4 separate regions of the Homo sapiens genome follow, and all the other regions are linked to region 1. The links come from fine-mapping of genetic effects on gene expression. A gene starts in region 1. Each other region holds a variant in brackets. All regions are shown on one strand. Distances are between the middles of the regions. Region 1 holds the start of LINC02044 (long intergenic non-protein coding RNA 2044). Region 2 overlaps NEPRO-AS1 (NEPRO antisense RNA 1). Region 3 overlaps NEPRO-AS1 (NEPRO antisense RNA 1). Region 4 overlaps NEPRO-AS1 (NEPRO antisense RNA 1).

Evidence for each region. PIP is the estimated chance that this variant, and not a neighbour inherited with it, causes the effect.
Region 2: its variant is the best candidate, but not a certain one, in a credible set for the expression of LINC02044 in spleen (GTEx, PIP 0.63).
Region 3: its variant is the best candidate, but not a certain one, in a credible set for the expression of LINC02044 in pituitary (GTEx, PIP 0.64).
Region 4: its variant is the best candidate, but not a certain one, in a credible set for the expression of LINC02044 in uterus (GTEx, PIP 0.84).

Annotation. Positions count from the first base shown.
Region 1 is chr3:113,164,789-113,170,696 of GRCh38, reverse strand. LINC02044 (long intergenic non-protein coding RNA 2044) reads left to right here and starts at 2,966. Exons shown (of 4, transcript NR_110823.1): 1 at 2,966-3,096; 2 at 5,491-5,570. All of the region lies in intron 2 of NEPRO-AS1 (NEPRO antisense RNA 1), which reads right to left.
Region 2 is chr3:113,110,073-113,115,980 of GRCh38, reverse strand. The region is part of intron 1 of NEPRO-AS1 (NEPRO antisense RNA 1); the gene reads right to left. Among named protein-coding and RNA genes, the nearest start is that of LOLI1, 8.6 kb to the right of the region's middle. The variant A/C (reference allele first, on the strand shown) is at 3,004.
Region 3 is chr3:113,133,191-113,139,098 of GRCh38, reverse strand. All of the region lies in intron 1 of NEPRO-AS1 (NEPRO antisense RNA 1), which reads right to left. Among named protein-coding and RNA genes, the nearest start is that of LINC02044, 32 kb to the left of the region's middle. The variant C/T (reference allele first, on the strand shown) is at 3,271.
Region 4 is chr3:113,123,639-113,129,546 of GRCh38, reverse strand. The region is part of intron 1 of NEPRO-AS1 (NEPRO antisense RNA 1); the gene reads right to left. It overlaps LOC124906268 (a long non-coding RNA gene), which reads right to left. Exons shown (of 3, transcript XR_007096005.1): 2 at 5,023-5,250; 3 at 2,081-4,147. Among named protein-coding and RNA genes, the nearest start is that of LOLI1, 22 kb to the right of the region's middle. RefSeq lists an enhancer at 4,976-5,477. The variant T/C (reference allele first, on the strand shown) is at 3,219.

The DNA of each region.
Region 1 (5,908 bases):
ATCCCATTCTGCTTTTCTTTTTGCTGCTGGTATATGAACTTTCCAGGCAGCCATTTTTTTCCTCCTAAAATGTACCAAGAAAGGCCTCCCTCTTCCCATTTAACAGGGTTATCCCACCAGACTTAGTAGGTAGGCTCCGAAGACCCCGTTATCTTCACATTCAACTGCCTTTCTCCTTTTGCACTCTCCATTTTTGCTGTATCCTCACCATCCTCTGGGACGCTGAGACTTGAAACTTGAATGGGTCCTTAATGTTGCCTTTTCTTTTGCCCCTCACGTCTGCTCAGGGTTGAGTGCTGTCTGTCCCATCTCTTCCTCATGTCTCCTTCTGTCCTGTTGTTTCCTTTGGCACTCTCTTGAATCTAGGGCAGACAGGAGGGAAGCTGGTCATTCTTTGCCAGACTGCGAACTGTGAGGCTGGGGACTGAAATGTTCTCCACCACTGTGGCTCTGAGACAATGGCTGTGTCACGCTTGACAGGCCCTCAGTGAAGTTCTACTGAATGGTTAACTCGGATGCTGAGTATCATGACTGGGGACTCACTGTCCAGGCAGAGCTCTGCTCGTCTCAGGCTGAGCTCCAAGGCAGCAGAGGAGGGAGGACAGTGGGGAGGCCTGGGGAAGGTGGGCCTCCTTGCACTGCCACTTCCTACCACTTGCTTAAGCCACTGCTCCCTGCCCTGCAGCTGCCTCTTGTTCTCCTCTTACCTCAAACCTCATATCCATACCTTGGAAGAGGTGAGCCTATTGTCTGGGACTAGGAAGTCATGGATCCAGACTTCCTGTTACTTATCTCAGCAACGTGCAGTCACTTCCCATTCAACAATCACGCATTGAGCTTAGGCACACTGCAATTCTTCTTCCATCAGAATCTCTTACCTTCTCTATTGCTCACTTGCTCTGGACTCATTGTGTTCATATAGGATAGTTCTATACAAACATTATGTATGTGTGTATGTGTGCATATCAGGATTGCTTTGAAACTCACCCACTCCACCCATTACACAATTTCACCTACGCGTGAATCAACTCAGAGACCAAAGTGGTGGCTCTCAGTTTTCAGGGACAATTTCAGACAGGGCCTTAACAGACAGTATGGGACATCCCACATTTCCTGCCTCGTGCCTCACCCTGAGATCAATCAGATCATTGCAAGTCTATTTCACAGAATGAAATACTTGAGCTGCATTGTGGTAGATTTTCATTGCCAGGTACTTCTTTTGAACTTCAAAAGTTGTCTCTAACACCCTGGAATTTATGTCTTATCTGCTTAAGAAGATAATCAGGCCACAGTCACACACTTTGCAGAAATACACATTGAACATGCATCTGGGGTATTTGTAAAATATGCTTGGGAGCCTGCAGACAGATGAAGTTTTGTCACTGTCAGGTATTAAAGGGTCACAGAATCAAATCAAGTGCAGAAGCCTGAACCTGCCATGCCTGAGACTTCCATCTGCGATTCACTGGAGAGATGAGGGATATGAGCTTGTGCTGTGCTGGTGCTGAACCCCTCAAGCCCTGTGAAATTAGAATGCTGGAAAGGCCCTCACGTCTCTTTGTTTTAAAAGCCGTGTGTTTTTGGAAAAGCACAACTTTCTGTTTTTTTCCTGAAAGCAAGATTTTTAAATTTCCAAATTATGCTCATAAAGTTTCTCAGATGTCAAACAGGTTTTCATAATAATTATTTTTGATGATTTAAGGGTAAGTAAATAAAAAGCATATGGATTAAATGTCCCTTAAAATATGCATGTTTTAATATTATGGGGTATGGGGGTAGTGCTTGACGAAAGCACTTTGCATTTCACACAGCCCTGATGTTTGAAAAATAGGGCATTTGATGAGTTCTAAACAAGACCAGGTTCTCCTATCTTTGGCAGAACTCTGTGAGCCAGTTTTCTGTCTTTCCAAGAGAAACGGTCTGCCCAATCCTGGGGAACAACAGCCCCCACCCCTGCAAGTAAAGCTTGGCAAACGTGAGCCGTCGTTCTCAGTTGAGAAAACAGGAGTGAAGTAATGGCCACAGCCCGCAGTTACCCCTCTGGAGTGGCCTGATTTATAACTGCCTTGGGAGCCTCACGGTATTACATCGCTTGATTTTGTACACACATAATGTCTTAGCCTTCCCACCCCACAATGTGTTAGGTGGTATTAAAGGTTTTCCACTGGGGCATATAAAATCTTGGCTTTTATCCAAGCCAAAATCCAGCCACCCCTTGAGCATTATAATTGAAGTCTAAATAGAACTTGGCATCATTCTAGGGTCTCTCAATCAATCAACTAACATTAAATGCCTGCTAGAGCAAGCCCTTACTATGATGGGGAGTGAGAGGAAGGGAGAAAAAAGGACATTAAAAAAAGTTCAGAAACACAGAAGACAAAGTCCCAGTTTCAAGCAACTAATGATCTGCTTGAGGGGCTAAGATAAGACACAGGGGAAATGATGAAATGCCACCAGGCAGGTATGGATAAGGGAGGCTGGACTGGGAAGGCTCTCTGAAATAGGAGTAACTTTTGATGGGCCTTAGGGATTGAGCTGGTTCATTCACTTGTGAAAATTCACTTGTGAAATATTTACTGAACACCTACTATATGCAACATACTGGGCTAGTACTGAGGATACAAAGGAGAGCCAGACAGGCCTGGTCCTTGCCTTTGGGCAGCTTGCCTCTGAGTTGGGAAGATAGGCATCAAACAGCTAATTATATCATTCAACCTTCCTTATAATTGTGAGTGCTCCAAAGAAGAAGATCAGGGTACTTGACCAAAGTTAAATGTCTTAAATTTTCCTAGACCCTTAAAGTGTGCTTCACCAATCAGCTTGATATAAAGGCAGAATCTCAGGCACCTCTCCAGTCCTAGTCAATCAGAATCTGCATTTTTAGCTCAATGCCAGGTGATTCTTTTGTACATTAAATTTTTAGAAACAGTACCAAGATAGAATTTTGCAAGACAGCAGAGGACTCCCGGATCACACATGTGTTAGAATATCTGGATTAAATGAATCAGACACCCCTTTTCCTGGATGATATTTATACACCTGAATTGTGTGTTAAGGAGCCTGTGTTGCTTGCGTAGATGCTGAAGAGTGGCCGAGGTAAGTTAACATGCCTCTCAACTTTGCATTATCCATTTGTATCTTATTTTCAGTTATATGTCTACTGGGTCAGGATCCTTTCACGCTCCAAAAGTAGGAGATCTATTCTGTTTGGCATCAATATTTCCCTGTGCCTCCCTCCCTACACTCTCAGTGCTGGCTAATGCTTTCCAGATGAGGTGTGAGCTGCTGCTAATTGTACCCGGATCAGTCTTGATTTGTGTTTCAGTCAGCAAGGCACCTCACTAATGGGTCTGAAACTTGGCAGCAGGCCTGGGACCAGTGTCAAAGGAAACAGATCCGAAAGGCACACCGAGAATGGCAAGGAGACAGGGAGTCGACAGAGAAAGATTTGCAGGATGAAAGGAGGGGGAGGAATCAAAGGGACAGGAGAAAACAGGAGAGCCTTTGGGGAAAAAGCAACAGAGAAACAGACCTGGGAAAGCCGGGGCTGTGGAGGAAAGGGGAGAGGGGCAAACAAAGGAAAAGGCCGGGAGGCAAAGGGAAAAGGAGCAATGCATCTGTATCTCTGAGAGGAGGAAAAAGAGAAGGCAAGATGATCAGGCTGTGTTTTGTGATGTGATCCTGAACGCTGATAATGCCTGTGGTTGCTCACAGAGAAATCCTATGTGGGGAGTGTCAGTCCCATTCCCATCTGCAGGCAGAAATCTGATGCCTCTCGCCTTTTCTCTCTGGCCTCCAGCTTTCCGATGGCTTGGCAGGGAACGCTGAACTCTGACAGCAGCCAGTGAGTGAAGGCTCAAGTTCTAAGCCTGACAGAGTTAAGGGACTCAGACACACCTTGGCTTTATGAGCTGAGGCCCGAGGCAGGGCCTCTGCTGGCTTGAGCTCCTGGAGCCAGCCTTCCTGGAATCGAGCTGGAAAGAGGCCTTCTTAGGGGAAGCTGAGAACTGAGGCCCAAGGCCTTTCTGAATTGGACACATTCACTGTACTTATTTTTTTTAATCTCCTCTATAAGAGGGGGGAAATCCACTTGCCAATATGAATTCCAAATTGTTTAAGTAGGGGAGAACCCATATATGCATGCAAATTTGTGCAGGCAAGCAGAGAGTGAAAGAAACAGGGAAACAGACTGAGGTTACCAGTGGACGGGCTAAACATTGCCTAGGACAATAGCAAAGCAGTGGCACTACCTACCCAGGCTCCCAGCAAGAAACAAATAAGCAAGCTTTGGTTTTGGAGGAAAAGTTGACACCTCAACAAATAACATTAATGTTCAAGCAAAAACTTGTACACAAATGTTTATGGTAGCACTATTCGTAATAGCCAAAAGATGAAAAAAACTCAGATGACCATCAACTGATAAATGGATAAACAAAATGTGGCATACACATATAGTAGAATATTATTTGGCCATAAAAAGGAATGAAGTACTAATACAGGCAATGATAGAGATGAATCTTGAGAGCATTATTCTAAGTGAAAGAGGCCAAACACAAAATGCCACATATTGTATGATTCTATTCATATGAAGTACTCAGAAATGGCAAATCCCCATAGTGACAGTACACAGCTCAGTTGTTGCCAGTGGGTCGGGGGAGGGAGGAATGGGGAGTGATTGCTTAATGTGCACGGGGTTTCCCTTTGGAGCAATGAAAAAGTTCTGGAACTAGATAGTGATGGTTTTGTCACATTGTGAATGTACTCAATGCCCCTGAATTTTACAGCTTAAAACGGTAAATTTCACTCTCTGTGTATTTTACCACAATAAAAACATTTTTTAAAAAGGATTGAAATAATCATTATTGTGAATATCTGAAAAAAATGTGGTCTATCCTAAACTTGATTTATAATTAAATACTGCTTTTATTTGTATTCATATTCAGAGAGTCGTTATAATATTGTAATGTCTCCAACTGTTTTAATATGACCCTGAAGGGGAATGAGAATAAGAAGTTCTAAATAAGAAAGGAAAAAAAGCGATGGAAATAGTAGGGGAAAAGACAAAGAAAGTCAGCTATCTATAGGGTAGGAAATCAGAGTAGGGATGACCTGCTAAAGAAAGGTGGCCAGATGAAGTGGGAGCAAATTAGCTTATGGTGCTTTGCCTAGGGGAGAAAGAAACTTCAGACACAAAGAAAGAGAATAAGGCAAGTCTCTGAGTGGGCCAAACAGCATGGAAAGGAAACTAGAATAAACTGAAAGAGGTCTTCAAAACAAAATAACAAAAAAAGACCAAAAAAACCCAAAAAACAAAAAACAAAAAAAACCCTCCAATTCTTCTTTTATTTCCTGTGAGATGAGTTCTTAAAGCTTATCTTAAATGCCATAGATCTGGGGCTAGGATCTGTGGGTGGGAGTAAGATATTTCCTCTCTGCAAGATGGGGGCCATTCTCCACCAGTAACGGGTCTCACTGCCCTGTTGTCTCCAGCCTGGGAAGTGATGAAGCAGAGGACAGAAGAGCCCCAGTCAGGGATGCAGTGGAGAGCTGTGCATTAAGCTGGCAGTTGGGTAAGATCATTTCTGAAATCTTTTCCAATCCTGTGTTTCTGTGTGTAAATGATTCTAAGCCATGTGCAGGTGCCTGAAAAAAGCGGGGCGTCGGTCAGTGGTTCAGGAGATCAATGTATGAATGTTTACTACATACATGTGCTCTAATTCAAAGGGGATTTGTTGGAATCACATACTGGCCCTTCCCTGTAGAGTGGCTGATGGGAAGACTGAGGTTGAGACTGTAAGTTTCTGACATTATATCCAGTTGTTTGGAATGTAAGAATTTTTAAAAATGTTTTAAATTTGAAAATATATATTAAAAAGATGAAATTAAAATCACTCATATTCTTATCACT
Region 2 (5,908 bases), 55 kb after region 1:
AGAGCGACTAAGCAAACAAATGGAGGAGCTTAGCATGAAACAAAGATAATCAAGGGTTAACTAGGAGCCACTGTGGGTTGAAAAAGTGAGAAGGCATATATAATGTTAATAACACCCACTCCGAGGGTCTGTGGTGAGCACTAGCCAAGATCACCCAGGCATAAGCCACAGCATGAAGGAGGGTTTGCAAGTTGTTCCCACTCTTCATCTTTGTATTTGAAGGTGCTGCCCAGCATAGGAGTTAAAGAGAAAGCCTTAATGTTCTCAACATGGTTTACTTCCTTAAAATACAGGTAAACTTAAGTTTGCTTCATGTTCAAGAGTCAATAAATATGGAAAACAATAGCAGTCTTTTGCTTTTCTGACACCGGAAATCTGCTTGATCATTTGTATGTATATATGTATGTATTTGAGATGGGGTCTTGCTCTGTCTTCCAGGCTGGAGTGTGGTGGCATGATCATTGTTCACTGCAGCCTTGATTGCCCAGGCTAAAGTGATCCTTCCACCTCAGTCTCCCAAGTAGCTGGGACCACAGGTGCATGTCACCATGCCTGGTAAGTTTTTTTTTTTTTTAATTATTCGTAGAGACAAGGTCTCAGTATGTTTCCAACGCTGGTCTCATACTCCTGAGCTCAAGTGATCCTTCTGCCTTGGCCTCCCAAAGTCCTGGGATTACAGGCATGAGCCACCATGCTCAGCCTCTGATTATTTGTTTACAGAAGGTTTTAAACATCACAATGAGAGACAGGATGATGGCAATGATAATGATGAATAAATACCGGTGTTTTTTTTTTCTAGTACTTCTATTTTTGTAGTATTTCTAGAAATACTACATTTCTAAAAGTTTTTTGGATGGTTTTCCAATTTCTCTGGAGGAGCAATGCAAAATCAATCCAAGAAGCAAATAACATCCAAGCAAAGACTCTGCTGGGGGCCATCAGGAAATGGGTCAACTTCCCTGGAAGAAGCTCATCCATTGCTGAAGAGAAGAACACATTCTTCCTGAAAACAGGAAGCACTTTCTTGAAGGAACATCAAGAAAAGGGCACTACTCTGCATAAGGTGCTCTGGGAAGGAAGAATGAGGACTGATGGGGTGCAGTGAAAAGTATACAAATTATGGCTTTCAATAATGTCCTCTTTTTTGATTCCAAAGAGAAGTATAAAATCTTCTTAGGGACTCCATTAGACCTCTAACGAATATAGCGAGGAACTCTCCCCTTTCCAAAATGAGTGATGAACCCTAGGCTTGAGGAAAAAAAAAGATCTTGATCTTTAGAAGTCAGACAATGGCAAAGTAAACATTTTAATAAAAGTGGACAAAGTTAGTCACATTGCAAGCTTTCTGCCTGCAGAGGCAGCCCTGTGACCATGTGGCCACCATGAGAAAGGCTACTGACATTGATGTCATTTTTTTCCCAGCAAAGAACACTATTCTGGATTCTCTGCACCAAGGGAGATTTAAAAAACAAAAGGTTGCCGCCCACAGTGTCTAGAAACCCACAGTATCTAGAAATACATGTCATTAAGAGGTATAAGAGAGAGAGGATGCGTATGGAGTCTAGGCCTCGGCCCCTTTACAAGGGAACAGGGATTGGGAAAGAAGCCCTAGAATCTCCAGGTTTCTAGAAGTCTTCTTTGTCTCCTTTCCTTTGCTTTGCTCTTACATTTCAGCAGAATGGCTGTTTCCCACTGGGTAAGGACTCTCTAGGGTCTCTCTGAGCTCAAGAGTTTTATCATTAATTATCTGGGGCACAGTAAAAAAGGATGTTTCTGTTCATCTCCTATATTTACAAAGTGTCATTGGACGTAACTAAGGAAAAGTTGTTTTCCTTAAATTTCCAGACTAAAGACATTCGGGGAAATTAAACAACTAGGATTTAAATCCAAATAATGACTATTTGTTTTAGTTTTGAAGGTTTTGCATTGTTTTCCCCAATGAGGACAGTCATAGCTGGTTCTGAGGGGGCAATCCCGCCGGGGAGCAACTCTACTTTTCAGGGAGAATCGGCAGGGCCTTCTGGAAGAAGGGGCATATCCAGGTAACTCATGATTTACTCATTTGCCTCCTTTTTCCAGACTCAGAGACTCTTAAAGCTGGGAAGGGCCTCACAGATTACATGGTCAGTGTTTCCCAACCTGGTGTCCTTGAACAGGTAGGGGATCCTCAAAGGCAAAAAAAAAAAAAAAAAAAAAAAAGGTTCTAAAAGCTTTTCTTCAATAATTTTCAAAGCCTAAAGGGGCTTTTAAACAAATTCCCCACCTCATGATGCTGCCAAGCAATTCAGTTGATAGCACTGCTAACTTATGAGCTTTTGAGGCCCTGGTTGGCTGATGATGACATCATGGCAAAAATATAGGAATAGTAGGCCTTAGAGATAAAAACTCACTTTGTAGTTCAGTAACTGAGATTCTCAGTGGGTTGTAACAAGTTACACAGAATGAATGACTGGATGGGATTTTTCAGAAGCTCCTGAGGCAATAAATGAACTTTCTGTTTCTCAGTTCAAATAAAGTCCCTGAATGAGTGAATATTTAAACTTCTTTTTAGGCCCAAAATTAAGTTTGAATAGGTAGCATTCCACTTTTTCACAGTTTTATTCTGCATGTATAGAATGCTGAAGAAGGAATATGAATATGAATAGCCTGCTTTTCCCAATTTTTCTTGGAGACTCAGAATTTGCCCCAAACCTTAGTTTGCAGACATGTATGGACTCATTTCCTTTTTATTGTACAGGAATATAGCAGATTCCAGCCCCCAAATTTAAAATCCTATTTGTCTAAACGGTCTGTTACTGACGTATTAAACGATGTTAAAAGATTCAGGAGTTTCTTTTGCCAGTGTTAAGCAGGCAAGTGAAGTAAGCTCCACACAAAATCCTTAGCGAATTGCTCTGTTAACCACACAATCTCACCAAACTTAAGTCCATAGAAAACAACATTTTTTAATATTGATGTCCATGTGTTTATAGGTATGTATAAGAAGGCAGGTTGTGACTAAAC[A/C]GGAAAGTTAAAGGAAAAGGAGAGCTGGCCGCAATGATACCGCTACTCAGGAGGCTGAGGTGGAAGGATCACTTGAGCCCAGGAGTTCAAGGTTACAGAGGGCTAAAATCATGTCACTGCACTCCAACCTGGGTGACAGAACAAGACACTGACTCAAACACACACACACAACAACAACAATAAGCCAAAACCAAAAACAAAAACAAAAAAATCCCGGGAGAATCTATTGCTACACTGTGTTCTTCCTCTCCATCCCATCTGGGAAACCGTTTCTGTTCATTTAAATGCTCTTGACTATCAGGGAAGATAAGGTGTTCCATAAGGGCACTATAAGGCTAAGAGACATGATAGTTAGGCAATAGATTTCCTAAAAAATTTCTTTGATGCCGAGCCTCAGGTGGCTGGGGCCATGTGAAAGACGCTCGCTATGAAAGTGAATCTTTATCTTGAGGACTGTTCAAGCTTGAAAAGTTAGCACAGGTCCTAGAGAAATGTTCAAGAAAGAACTGAGCTTCTCTTACATAGTCACTTTATTACTACGAGATCTAACCATCGTTGGTCCCACTGAGATTTCCAGAACACTTGAAAATCCAAAAACAAACAAACAAAAACCACATGAGAAAGGCTTTTAAAGATAATCACTATGTCCTGAGAAGAAGCAAAAGGATGAGAAGAGAACCCGGTGTCAAGAGTGCACTTGGGTGATGGGTGCACCAAAATCTCACAAATTGCCACTAAAGAACTTACTCACTTAAACAGATACCACCTGTACTCCAATAACTTACGGGGGGAAAACAAAGCAAAAAAAAAAGAGTGCAATTGGAAGAGAGGTACTAGTCATGACTGTTTGCTTCTCCCTGGCTATAGTTTGTGCTTTTTAAAGTTATTGGGATACAATTCACATACTGTTTTACCGTTTTAAATTGTACAGTTTAGTGGGTTTTAATACATTCAGAAAATTGTACAACCATCACCACTATCTAATTCCAGGACATTTCTTTCCCCCAGAAAGAAATCCTGTCCCCATGAGCAGTCTTTCTTTTTTGAGACAGTCTCACTGTCTCCCAGGCTGGAGGGCAGTGGCACTATCATAGCTTACTGCAGCCTCGAACTACTGGGCTCAAGGGATCCTCCCACCTCTGCCTCCCAAGTAGCTGGGACTACAGGCATGTGCCACCACACCCGGCTAATTTTTTTTTTTTTTTTTTTTTTTTTTTGTAGAGACAAGGTCTTACTATATTGCCCAGGCTGATTTCAAACTCCTGGGCTCAAGTGATCCAATGAGCAGTCTTGTTGACTTGCATGTAGGCTTGCCTCAAGTATACCACACCATTCATCCCTCTGTTCATTCAACCAACATTGTTTGTTGAATTACCCCATGCCTGGAGCACTTACTAAGCTCCAGGCATGGTGTAATTTTGCCCCTACCCTTTGCAGCAGAGGCCTGCACAGCACAGTGTCAAGGATTACCTTAAGGAGCAGAGTTTTCTTTAGGGTTACAGCGGAGTGTGAGATCGTGGGAGATAAGGGTGAGTCACTGATCAATGGCTCAGTGAGAGTTGTGGGGAAGGAATTGAGGCTGACAAAAAGTACACAGTGAGGTTATATGTTCTTCAGGAAGGTTTGCTGTGCTGTTTAGGTTCCTTTTTAAAAGTTCATGGCTTTCAGGAGTTGTTACCTCCCCAGAGGAGGTGTTGGCCGGCAAACTAAACCCTGTACATTTTTAGACTCCTACACCTCTCCTCCACATTTCCTGCTCTGTCCACATCCAGCTGCAAAACTTCTTTCCATTTTTGACAATTTCCATATCCATATTCATTTCTTTCACGTGGTTGTCTTTTGCATGTCTTTTTCCAATCATTCCTGCCCCCACCCTGCTGCCCTGGTGCCCCTCACCCCCGGTGAATCTCTTCTGCTTTTGTGGTCTCTTCTTTCTTCTTCCATTTTTCTTCCTTTTTACTACTCTTTGCCCTCACACCCAAGGTATGCAGCAGGCTTGGATGAGAGAGTCACACGGAAGGGACTGTTTATACGTAAGAATGTTTGTCTTCTCTCCAGACGCACTGACACTTAGGGAGGGAAAGTGCGAACTCTACTCGCAGCCTCTCCTTTGCTCATGCCATTATTTATAATTATGATAATAGAAAATAATATTGATTTAACTTTTACTGTGAACCAGACACTGTGCTAAATTCTTTTCAGACTTTATCTCATCGAATCCTCACAACAATCCAACAAGGCAAGTACTATTATGACCTCCAGTTCACAGATGGGAAAACTGAGTCTTGGCGTGATTAAAGCACTTGCTTAATATCCTAAGCTAGTAAATATCGGAAAGTCACCCACAGCCAGCTCTGTCTGACTGCAGAGCCTAAGGTGTGACTTTACAATGCCTTACTTACTTTCTGGGCTTCTATCCTTCCTCCAACCCACCTCCTACTTTAAGTTAACTCCCTCTCTCTTCCTAAAGTGAACTCGGCAGTCCAGTTGGCTTCCTTCCAGCTTCAGTGAGCTGGGGAATCCCTGGCATGGGCTCAGCTATAAGTTCTATAGAACATCATAACTGCTGGTACTAGGGCAATAAAATCTTAACAGTCTCGGCCGGGCACAGTGGCTCACGCCTGTAATCCCAGAACTTTGGGAGGCCAAGGTGGGCAGATCACCAGGTCAGGAGTTTGAGACCAGCCTGGCCAACATGGTGAAACCCCATCTCTCCTAAAAATACAAAAATTAGCTGGGCATGGTGGCAGGTGCTTGTAATTCCAGCTACTTGGGAGGCTGAGGCAGGAGAATCGTTTGAACACGGGAGATGAAGGTTGCAGTGAGCCGAGATCACGCCATTGCACTCCAGCCCAGGTGACAGGATGAGGCTGCGTCTAAAAAAAAAAAAAAAAAAAAAAAAATC
Region 3 (5,908 bases), 32 kb after region 1:
ACTCCTGGTTTCCAGTCTGACACATAAGGAACTTAGAAGTCACCATTCCATTCTAATAATAAGTAAGAAACCAAGCACAGAGAGTAAAACAATGGTTACCAGGGGATGGGAGGGGTAGGAAATGGGGAGAAATAGGTCAAAGGGTACAAATTTGTAGTTATGCAGGATTAGTAAGTCTAGAGATCTAACATACAGCATGAGGACTACAGTAAATACAACCTTATCATAGACTGAAAATTTGCCAAGAGAGTAGATTTTAGGTGCTCTTAACACACACACACACACACACACACACACACACACACACACGAAGTAACTATGGAAGATGATGGGTGGGTTAATTTGCTTGGCTGGAGTAAGCATTTTACCGTGTATAGTTATATAAAAATATCATGTTGTACACCTTAAATATATACAATTTAAAAAGCCAAACAAAATACAAAATCAGCAACTCTTCTTAGATCTGTCAGAGAAGTGAGGCCACAGGGCAATCACTGGCCCCAAAATTGGAGAGACAGACAGGTGGATACAGAGCATCCTATGGCATATCCCAAGTGATCACATTTTAACACAAAGAAAAACACCAAGAAATTCCAAAATGTAAAAATAGTGCAGAAGGCATTTTCTGTTCATGATGTAATATAGCCCGATCTTAATAATAAAACAAAATAATAAAACAACAAGATATTCTAATATCTGGGAAAAAAACCCCAAAACTCTTTTTAAAGCAACTCTTGGATCATAAAGAAAATCAAAATCAAACCTAATATTCAGAAAATAAGAAAATGTTTAAATTTAAAATAAAAATATGTTTTAAGGAAAGATAGAAGATAGAAGCTATGAAGCTATATGAAAAAGAAAGCAAGGAAATGAAAAAGAATTCAGCATGATCTTTATCTCTGGTGGTTGGAGGAGTAGTATGGACAGAAGCAGAGGGAGGGAATGGGAGGGGCAATATAGGTAGATGGAGTTTATTGTCAAGACGCATTGGGTGATGGGCCCATATTTTAAAAATTATGTTAAAAAATGGAAGAACTAAACAAAAGATGGCTATGCATTTACCAATGATGAGAGTGTAACATAAATTAAGGATGATGATTAATCCAATTCTGTGCCAAAAACTAATTTAGAAATAACTATATACTAGAACCTAAGGAGTGCAATTTAAAGCAGTGCTCAGAGGAAAATTCATAGTCTTCCATATGTAGAATAATAAAAAGACTGATAATGAAAGAAGTAACATCTGACTCAAAGAATTAATAAAAAGAACTGAATGATAATAATAAACCTAAAGAAAGTAGAAACTAAAAGCAGAAATTATTTAACTAATAACAAACAAAGTGGTATGTGTAGTGGTCAGATTGAAATAAATTATGGACTATCTGTACAGTGCAATACTCTGTGGCTATGAAAAAGGGAAGAGAAAGCTCTCTCTGGATTGATAGGGAATAATTGCCAAGCTATGTATAATAGCTAAGTAAAAAAAAAAAGCAAGGTGCTTTTGTGTAACGTATGCTATCATTTGTCCTTTGTGTAAGAATCAGGAAAGATAAAGAATATCCACACACACACACACACACACACACACACATATATATGCACATATGCACTTATATATGTGCATGTGTGTATATATACATATATACACATATATATGTATATATATATACACACACCCCTGCACATATATGTAATTGCTGGTATATGCATCTCTCTGGAAATATTCATCAGAAACTTGAAGCATTGGTTGCTACTGGCTAGAAGAAAGAGTAGAAGGGACATTTTTTACTACCCTTTTGCACATTTCAAATTTTGAATCACATGAATGTGCATACTTATTTAAAAATTAAGTTAAATAATTGGCAAGTAAATTATTTCTAGTTTTTAGAAATATGGAACTGAACAAGCCTTTAAATTTAAGATCATAAAATATAGCAAGAAATAGTTTTATTTTTCTAAATAACATTTTTATTTTCTACGTATATATTTTTCTAAATTATGTATTCCAAGTCCAGTTATGAGAGAGAGATTGTGGGAAATGAAAGGAGTGATAAACCACAGGAAAAGAGAGGGACCATGGGAAATGAGACTAAGAGTTAGACGGGAGCCCAGGAACCTATGCCGAAAGAGAGGAGCCAGACAATCAGGGAAGTTTGGTGAAACAGAAAGAAGTACAGGCATTCTACAAGTTCTAGGATCAGGACAGTCGGGTAAAATGTTCTTGCAACAATGCCTTCCATCTGGGACACGAGCTTTAGAGCAAACTATCCTGTTACAATAGTCTTTGAAATCATGTGAGAATAAAATGTTTATTTTTTCCATTGAAACCTAAGGGTTTTCTCATATGTGAAAAGAATTAACAAAGGTTTAAGAGAGTCAGTTAGGAACCTAGTATGTCTTTGACATTCAAAAGTGGTCGAATTGCTTCGTCTTTGTTCACAAGAGAATATGCGTTCCACTATTAAATGTCAGGCAGCTGTATTTGAAAATAGTGTTTATTTCACCTTTTAAAAGCCTCCCTTGACCACAAATAAGTCTAACTCATGAGGCTATAAATAATGTTTTATTTTTCCAATTTTTCAATTAAAAATATCAAACTCCTGGAGGAGCCACCCTTAGAAAATGAAGCACAATATCAGCTTAATAAAAGAAAAATTTATGTTTCTGGTTACAATATCTTGGCTTGAATAATTTCATCTCAGAATGCAAATGTAAGATAGAGTGAAGTTAAGTTGGGACCCAATCAAGTTTTGAAGATTCCCATTTCTGGCGTATAAAATAATGCAAGTTTAACGTTTTGGGAGACACCATTACCTCTGTTGCCACCTGCTGGTAAACATATGTCTCATTTAATTCAGTTAATGGCTCACCCCGATTAAACACATTTTGGATCTTGGAGATAGATTTGCAGCAAAATAACTTCTGCTGCTTCAGAAGTGGTCACTGGTTTACGGATGCAGTGGCTGATGCATCACAGGGACTGGCTGTGCTGAGCTATGTCCCTTAGTACGTAGGACAGCCGAAGACAGCTTGCACTGGTATGTGGATTTAGACAGGCCTTCCTCTGGCAGGGCCTCCTGCTCTCCCAATTCTTTAAGTTTGTCTATTCTCATGTCCATCAAAACATAGGATTCTTCTCCTTAAGGAGATCAGTTTTTAAAAACACTGAATGATTCTGAGTCTTAATTTAAAAAATTTTAATCAAAGGCTTTTGACCCTCCAAATGAACATGGACCACACACATATATATACTCATGCATACAGTTGCTT[C/T]ATTTTGGTTCTGAGGTTGAAGTCAACACTGATGAACAGAGATGCTTTTATTTATTCTGCATGCAGCCTTTCTCTTCCTTCTCCCACTCATATGCTTTATTCTTCTGCTCTTTCAAAACCTGCATTCCATGCTCAATACTTGTGCATTTAGCTGCAACACAAACACTCATAACTCACAGTGTGGCTAATGTTTACACATTTTCTTATAAACATAAGGAGCCTACTTTATCTGGAACCCTCACTTTATCTGGAATTTTAATAAGCAGAAGGAAAAAATATGACCATTTTCCTTCTATGGTACCACTTCATGATGCTAATTGGTCATTATGTTCCCCCAAAATACTGTAAGATTCTGATGTGGTTTTGTTACCCATTTACTTATTTAAGAATAGTTGGGTGGTTGGTTTCAAGTTTTTGGTGATTCTGACTAGAGCTGCTATAAACATGCATGTACAGGTTTTTGTGTGAGCATAAGCTTTCATTTCTCTACAGTAAAAACCTGAGGGATGGGATTATTGGGTCATTGTGTATGTTTAACGTTTTAAGGAATTGCCAAGCCATTGTCCAGAGTCGCTTTACTACTTTGCATTCACATGTGCAATGCATGAGATTTCCAGTTGCTCCGCATCCTTGTCAGCACTTGGTATTGTCAGTATTTTTAATTTTATATATAATGGTAACACATTGTAGTTTTAACGGACATTTCCCTAATAATGAATAATTGTTGAAAACTTTTTGTGTACTTACTATCATCTAGCTATCCTTTTATGTTAAGTGCCTGTTTAATTACCCATTTTTTTACATTGGTTTATTTGTTTTCTGTTGCGTTTTGAGAGTTCTGATATATTCTGGTTATGTCTTTTGGTAATGTAGTTCTTGAATCATCAAAAAATGTATGAATATTTAAAGTTTTTTATTGTAAAGTTTTTAATTATATTTACTTCTTGGTGATTTACATATGCAAGCCACATAAGTCTATTAATTAAACTTTTCCATCACCCAGAACTGTGTGTATTTTGAATGATTGGGTGCTTTTTAAGGAGGCCCAGAGGGAAAGCTGGTAAGCTGCCCCAATCAGAGTCTGGAAAGAGCCATTTGGTGGATTCACAAAGGCAAGTCCAGGGTTTTTAGTCTTTAACTTGAAGATTCAAAAATGTGACTTGGTTGAGCCAGGCATGGTGGCTCATGTCTGTAATCCCAGAATTTTGGGAGGATGAGATGGGAATATTGCTAGAGCCCAGGAGTTTGAGACCAGCCTGGGCAACATAGTGACTCCCTGTCTCTTAAAAAAAAAAAAAAGAAAAAAGAAATGTAACTTAGCCAGTGTCCCAAGAGCTGATCCCATTTGAGGACGCTTATTCATGCTAGCAAGGCTCTCAAGAGACCAAAGTGCAAGACCAGGGTAGCAGCTAATGCACTAAGGGGGCCTCTTATGTCTTCTCCTATAGCTCCATCTGATATTCACAAGGTTCCTTGAGGAGCTTGGAGTTGGAATAAAGGGGATTTAGCTGTATCAATGGTTGTGACAGAATTTTTACTAGGTCATGGTGAAAAAAATAAGCATAATTTAACTTTTCTTAATGGATTCAACTTAAAGGGCTACCCTTTATTTAGAGATTGTATCCTTTCTACAACTTTGGCAAATTCCATATGAATTTATTTTCTTAGGGTGTATTGATGACTTACTGGCCTAGAAACAATTCTGAAAGTAAAGAGCCATTTTATGTTATAATTTCAGTCCTATCACCTGGATTTCTGAGACCTTGGGAGCTACCTCCCTCCCACTTCCTCATCTATATGTGTGTAAGTCAACTGAACTTGGCATTCAAGGCCCTATACAATCTGACTCTTAGCTTCCAATTTTATTTCAATTCACCTTACCATGAGAATCCTCTCCAGGTAAACCAGTCTTCTTGAAACTCCCAATATGCTGTGCCTTTTCTTGCCACTGGATATTTGCTGTATGATTTCTAGCACACCACTCCCTCCTCCACTGATCTTCTTTGATGTCTTTTAAGCCCGAAGTGAACACATACTCCTCTGGGTTCTTATAGCACCTGTCTTCGGTACCATTCCCAAAGCATTTATCCCACAATATCTTTCATTGTGGGTGACTCATGTGTGCTTTAATGAATGATCAGATAGTGCCCCCACTGGATGGAAAGCTTCTGAAGGGGGAGAAATAAAGGCCCACTTTTTTAGAAATCTCAGCATGTCTCCCAGCAAATAGCACAGTGCTTCTCACAGCAGGTGCTCAATAAGTGTCTGTTAAAGGAATGAATGAAGACATAAATGTACGAGAAACAGTATATTTAAATTCTTGCAACAGAATTCCTCTTTTCACCCATGGTTACCTATGTATTTTGATACTTGAACACATTCTTATACACACATCCTATATAAATATACAAACCGAGGGCTCCCTTGGGCTATCTCCTCAGACGTGTGAGTCTGTGAGTGTGGCCTGCACATCAGCATGCCCAGGCAGAAGGAAAAACAAGCAGGCACTCCCAACTGGGGAAGTCATTTGCAGCTCTTCCCATTATTACTGGCTGAATCTCTTTATTTAAAACAAACAAAGAGCTGGAAGAAGCAACTCAAGTGGCCAGCTATTAGCAAGTTCAATTATCAAAACACA
Region 4 (5,908 bases), 41 kb after region 1:
GTGCTAGTTGCCAATGTACTGTGTCCATGACTATCATCGGTGTAGGGGAGGAGAGAAAGACAAAAGGGAAGGTAGAGGTTGGGAGAGACAGAGACAGAAACAGAGACTAACTTTCACTTCTGGCAGAACCTTTTGGAAGCTGTGTCTTTTACTGTGATGAAACATCAAGGAACCACAAGGGCTGTGACTGTGTCTTGCTCAGTATTTCCAGTGCTGAATAAGGTGACGGACATTTATTAAATATTGCTGATTTCATAATATCAACGTTGGACTAACATTTTATAAACAATAAAATCTTTAGGAATACACGTTCTTGGAACATTTTACATGGTTTTGGGATTTAATTTAGCCAAAATGAATCCAACTTTCCTAGTTAGCTTTTTAAATGTGGCTAGCTTAATTCCTTTGCCTTTTGTCACTTATTGGTTCAAGGTTGCTGGCCCTGGGGTCTCAGGATACTGGGCACATGCCGTTTTTTAAAGGGGGCCTCCCTGTGCCCTTTTCTCCATCAGAAATTAACACAATCCTTACGCTTCAAAGTGAAGTGGGGAAGCACATTCATATTCAAATAAGAGTTTTCGCTCTGATTTAAAAATAAATAAATAAATACTTTAGCTCAAATTTATGCTTAATCTGAAGATCCATGATCCCTTCATGGAGTGCGGAGCTGCTCATGTAGGGGGATCGGTGGAGGTGACTCATTCTGCAGAGCAGCAGCTGCAGCCGTCACATAGACAAGCCGCCAGACCCCACAGGCCAGGAGAAAAGAGACAGGGAGAAGGAAAAGGAGGAATGAGTGCTCTTAGAGCAAAGAAACAGCCTTGTGCTTGCATGAAGTCCTGCAAGGTTGAACGCCTCTTCAGGTAATTCCCTTCTTCTTGTCAGTCATTATTCCATCATTTCTTTCAGGAATCACTTGCCAGCAAGCCAGTGTCCTACCGTCATAGACTGTGACTTCCTGGAGTGCAAGCATGATGTCTTATTCATCTCTTAGTCATCCTACCCTACACTTCATGCCTAGCATGGTGGGGGCTACGAGTAGATGTTTGAGGAGCAAGTGATACCTCAGGAGTTGGGACCATCCTGTAAACTACAACTAACTAAGTGACCCTGAAAGGGGGGCCATTAAACTTCTGCTGCCAGCCCTAACTGAGGGCGTGGGTTGCTCACTTTTCAGTTTGCACAAAAGCTCATTTGCTGCTGCTTTCATCATTTATTTGATTCCTCTGCTTTCAACAAGTTGGTGTTGGGAAAGTTCAGCTAACTATCCCCACAGCTCCCCATGTGCAGTGTGGGAAGAATGTTTAAAGCTGGCTTCATAGAAGGAGTGAAGGCTAATGTTCAGTTCGGAGGAAGGATAATAGCTGGAATGCATAGTTCAGCGTCTGTCTCTGCCATTCAGGGGCTGGGACATTGGAAGGTTTGCTTCTATCAACAGATTAGTTAAGAAGACATTGAAGGGCATAAAGGCCACAGTAAGATAAGTTCTAAGACTTGTAAATACAGTTTAAATAAGAGTTAAACCACTAAAATCCACACACAATTGATGTAATTAGTCATCTTTGGAAGTAAAGTAAAAAAATCATTTATAAATGTGTGAGCCAAGAACTTAAGGATGCCTAAGAAACCAATCAAGGTGAACTTAAGAGAAATCTCAGGGAACCAGCAAGGGCAGTACTTAGAACCCAACCAATTGTACGCATTCTGCTTGAAGAATGCTTTAGAACAAAATGTCTGGGGTGTGGGGTGGGTACAAAGAAATGATCAGTTATAAGAATAAAGAAAAAAGGGGCCTGGTGCGGTGGCTCACGCCTGTAATCCCAGCACTTTGGGAGGCCAAGGCAGGCGGATCAAGAGGTCAGGAGATCGAGACCATCCTGGCTAACACGGTGAAACCCCGTCTCTACTAAAAATACAAAAAAAAAAAGGTTAGCCGGGCGTGGTGGCTCGCACCTGTAGTCCCAGCTGCTGGGGAGGCTGAGGCAGGAGAATGGTGTGAACCCGGGAGGCGGAACTTGCAGTGAGCCGAGATCGCGCCACTGCACTCCAGCCTGGGTGACAGGGTGACACTCCGTCTCAAAAAAAAAAAAATAAATAAAATAAAATAAAGAAAAAGGTGGGGTGTTGCAGAGGCAAATGTTGGTAGACCCACTAAGGCACTATAACAGCTCTGGACAGAGTCTTCTTGTCCTTGACTTGCTGAGAGAGCCTAAAGCATCTCAATGGAGAGACACTTCTGAAGCTTAACTCACTGCCTGCATTCTGAGCCAGTGTGCTGATTTGGCCAGAGTGAATAACCAGTACTCTTATTAGTTGTATTTTTCTGGGTAAATTAACAAACTGGTGTGTGTGTGTGTGTGTGTGTGTGTGTGTGTGTGTGTGGCTTGGAGGCTGTGTCAGCACCTGGGGCATGGAGGATGCTACTCTAATGATGTCAAGAGAGTCAGGATCTGGAGTCTGAAAGGACAGTGATGAGTCTCTGAGGCCAAGGCCATCAGTGGGCCTTCTCTGCATCCTTCTGTGTCATAGGCTGAGCTGCCCATTTTCAGGTGCAAAAGAAGATACTCTTCAAAGATGATGGCCATTCCTTGGCTTCCAACCAAGGCTATACTTTTCTTCAATGCTCTCAAACTTTTTGACTATGGGGAAAGTCCCATGGCTAACTTACCTCATCTTATATAAACTACCCCCTGCAAAGCCATATTTCAATATTTGTAAGGCTTACAAGGTAGACTATGCTAGCCCGTTGTGAGCCTTAGACTCCCGTGTGTGTCACGATCCCAGCCACAGGACTTCTACTGGAATTTTACAGCAGAAGGGCACTGTCTTTCTTGGCAGTCTGTTCAGCTCTGCGAATGTGCCCTGTCTCCACTGTGTGCTGGCTGCACAAAACACCTCTAATTCCTTGAGATGAAAGTTGCCACCAAAAGCAGGAAGTGCCTGTAAAGATGGAGGGGTCAACTCTAGGGGCTGAGGGCTGCAGAAGCTATGTTTTCACTGGGAAACAGACTAGAGTGGGAAGGTGAGATCTGTAATGATGGAGTGGTCTGCTCCTAGATAATTAACATTCACACCACAGAAGTGAGAGGAGAACCAGTAGGATGTAATAAGGCCTAGCAGAAGGTCTTTCCACACACACACACACACACACACACACACACACACACACACACACACACACAAGCTTTAAATGGTTCTATAGCGATAGCAACTGTCTT[T/C]GCTCTGCTCACAAGCCTGGCCAAGAGCTCGGGCTCCCTCTGTGATGACAAGAAAAAGGGGTCTGAAGGGGCCAGACTCAATGCATAGGCAGACCCTCCATGGGGAATCTGAGATGAGTGCTGTGTAAAGGCTTTTCTGTCCCAAAAGCTCTATGTTGTGGAAATGATGCCTGGAATTATCCAGCGTCAGGAACTTGCACCTGGACCGGAAAGTCAGGACCCTTGGCTGGAAAGTATTGAGTGGGGAGAAGAAGTGGGTTTGGCCCCAGATAAAGAGCATTGCTTAGGGACAACAGCAAAGAATAGGGGTAAGATCAAGAGCAACTCAAGAGCCACCTAATTCATGGGTAAGAACAAATCAGAAGTTGGGAGAAGAACACAGAAAAGGAAAATAGCTGAATTCAAGCAAAAGAAGCATCTCTGTGGTTTTGCCCACAATCAGTTGTAGTCACAGATACCATATTTTAAAAGTAAAAACCACGTCTGTCATCAACTGGTCATAACAACTCAAAAATATTTTTTAACTCTACATCTCTTACGCATTTTTTTTAGGGAAAAATAACTGAACACAGTGAACTGTATTCTTTGTTTGCAGGACTCTCCTTTTCATTTTTATACCAGATTTTTCAGCCAAGAATATTTGTCCTAAAGCTATTTAATAAATGAGCTGGTTGAAGACCTCACAACAGATTGCTGACAGCCCCAGTTACTTCTTTAAGGCAATGCCCATGAGCTGAAATGCTAGCACATACTCATGGACACAAACTTACTCAGAACTGCCTTCAGAAAGATGCAATTTATGATAGTACAGGGCAGCAGAAGGTCACATCATGTAAAACATGGGCACACAAAACAAAGCAAAAACAAGTAATTATTAAATTTTGTGAGTCATCCTGATAATAATGGAATCTTCCAGATACTTTCAGCACCTGAAAAAGACACAGAGTGTGGCATTTAGACTAGCACAGAGAAGGCACTCTTTCCAGTAAGGTTACTGAGTTTTATGTGGCATCTTATCGCCTGTCTTCCTTCTGGCACTTCCTAAGGAAGGGTGATGACGATATGCTCATTCCCACCACCATCAGTTCAGGGACAATGATCACCCTATTGACGAAGTTGGCCCAGGTGATTATGGTGGCACACATAGGCGTAATAAGCAGCCATAAGAAACGCAACCTCAGTTTTCCCACTTATTAAATGAGATTAAGCATCCCACTTAGGCATGATGCATAATCTCAACCTACTTCACTAGAAGACTGTCTGAACATAGAACAAAAAGAAGCATGCCTAGCTAGATGTAGAACAAAAAGAAATATGCCTAGCTAGATGTTCTGTGGAAGGGCATGATACAAAGTATTGCAACTGCTATATGTTAAGAAACAAGTAACTCTAGGACCCTGAAAGGTTTTATGCAGAAGTGCATGCAAGAGTTTCATTTTGAATCTCATTAAAGCATCCCTCACTTATTAAGTGTAACATGAATCTTAACTGAAAAAAATTAAACTACTGTGTAAGCATTCCTAGAGTATGGTCTAAGTTTAAATGAAGCTCTTGTTTAATGATATCAGCCATAGTCTCATTCTGCAGGTGCCTTGTCTGCACATCTTTGTTCTCTCCTTTCTTCTGGAAACCAGTAAGCCCTCAGTATGTGTGTGTGTGTCTGTGTGTGTGTGTGGGTGTGGGTGTGCGCGAGTGCGCGCTCACGCGCCCACGCGCCCACGCCCCCACGCCCACCACTTCTTGTCTGCTGGGGACCCAGTGGGTTCAGGTCTCAGGAGGAACACAGAAGCTGTGCCTGCATTACCCAGTGAAGCTTTGATTTCTTTTGTTCCTGCTGCTGGAGCCTCCTTGGCTGATTAAGTCTGAGGCTTCTTCCAGGTTTTGTTGGTCCATGAATGGAGCCTCTTCAGTGCTCACTGGAGTGCGGTATCATTGATACTTCCTCCGCCTGGCTCCCTCCCTCTCCCAGCCCAGCAGAGCTGATGGATTAATCCTGTTGTGCGCTTGTAAGTCTCCCAGGCAGAAATGTAAGCTAGGGTAGAAAAAGATGGCTCAGGTTGGATGGGACCACAGAGACCTTCCTTTCTATACTCCTCATTTTACTTAATTAGGCTTCAAGAGGTATAGGGCAGAGCAGTGAAGGGCCTGGCCCAAGTCTCTCAGAGGGTTGGGGCAAGTCTAGACTTCCCCAGGGCTTTCTACTTTACTTGTTCCAGCACAGGCCCTTCTCAGTGGGAAGCCTGCAAGAATTTTTTTGCCCTTGCTGTAGAACAGTAACATTGTATCTACATACAGAACAATAACACTGTATCTAGATGCATCTTTTACATTTTTACAGCAAAGTGAAGGACCTGCTGACTAAAATCATAGATTTTTCATATGGGAAGTGAAGGGAATCTGTAGTACTTTCTAACAAGAGTCGGAAAACTGTCTTGTTTGCTAATAATTGCTTTGCCTATAATTTTTATTTTCCTGCCATATCCTCCAGTTTCACACATATGTCCCCAAACCCTTAAGTCTGTGGATTGCCTGTCTCCAGCATAGGAAGAGACCATGGCTTATGACAATTTTCTTCTTCAGAGACAACATTTTATAGCATTCATCACTTCCTGACATTATATATACTTATTTGTCTGTCTGCCCTCACTAAAATATAGGCCTCATTAGGATAGAGGTTTTGTTTTGTTCAC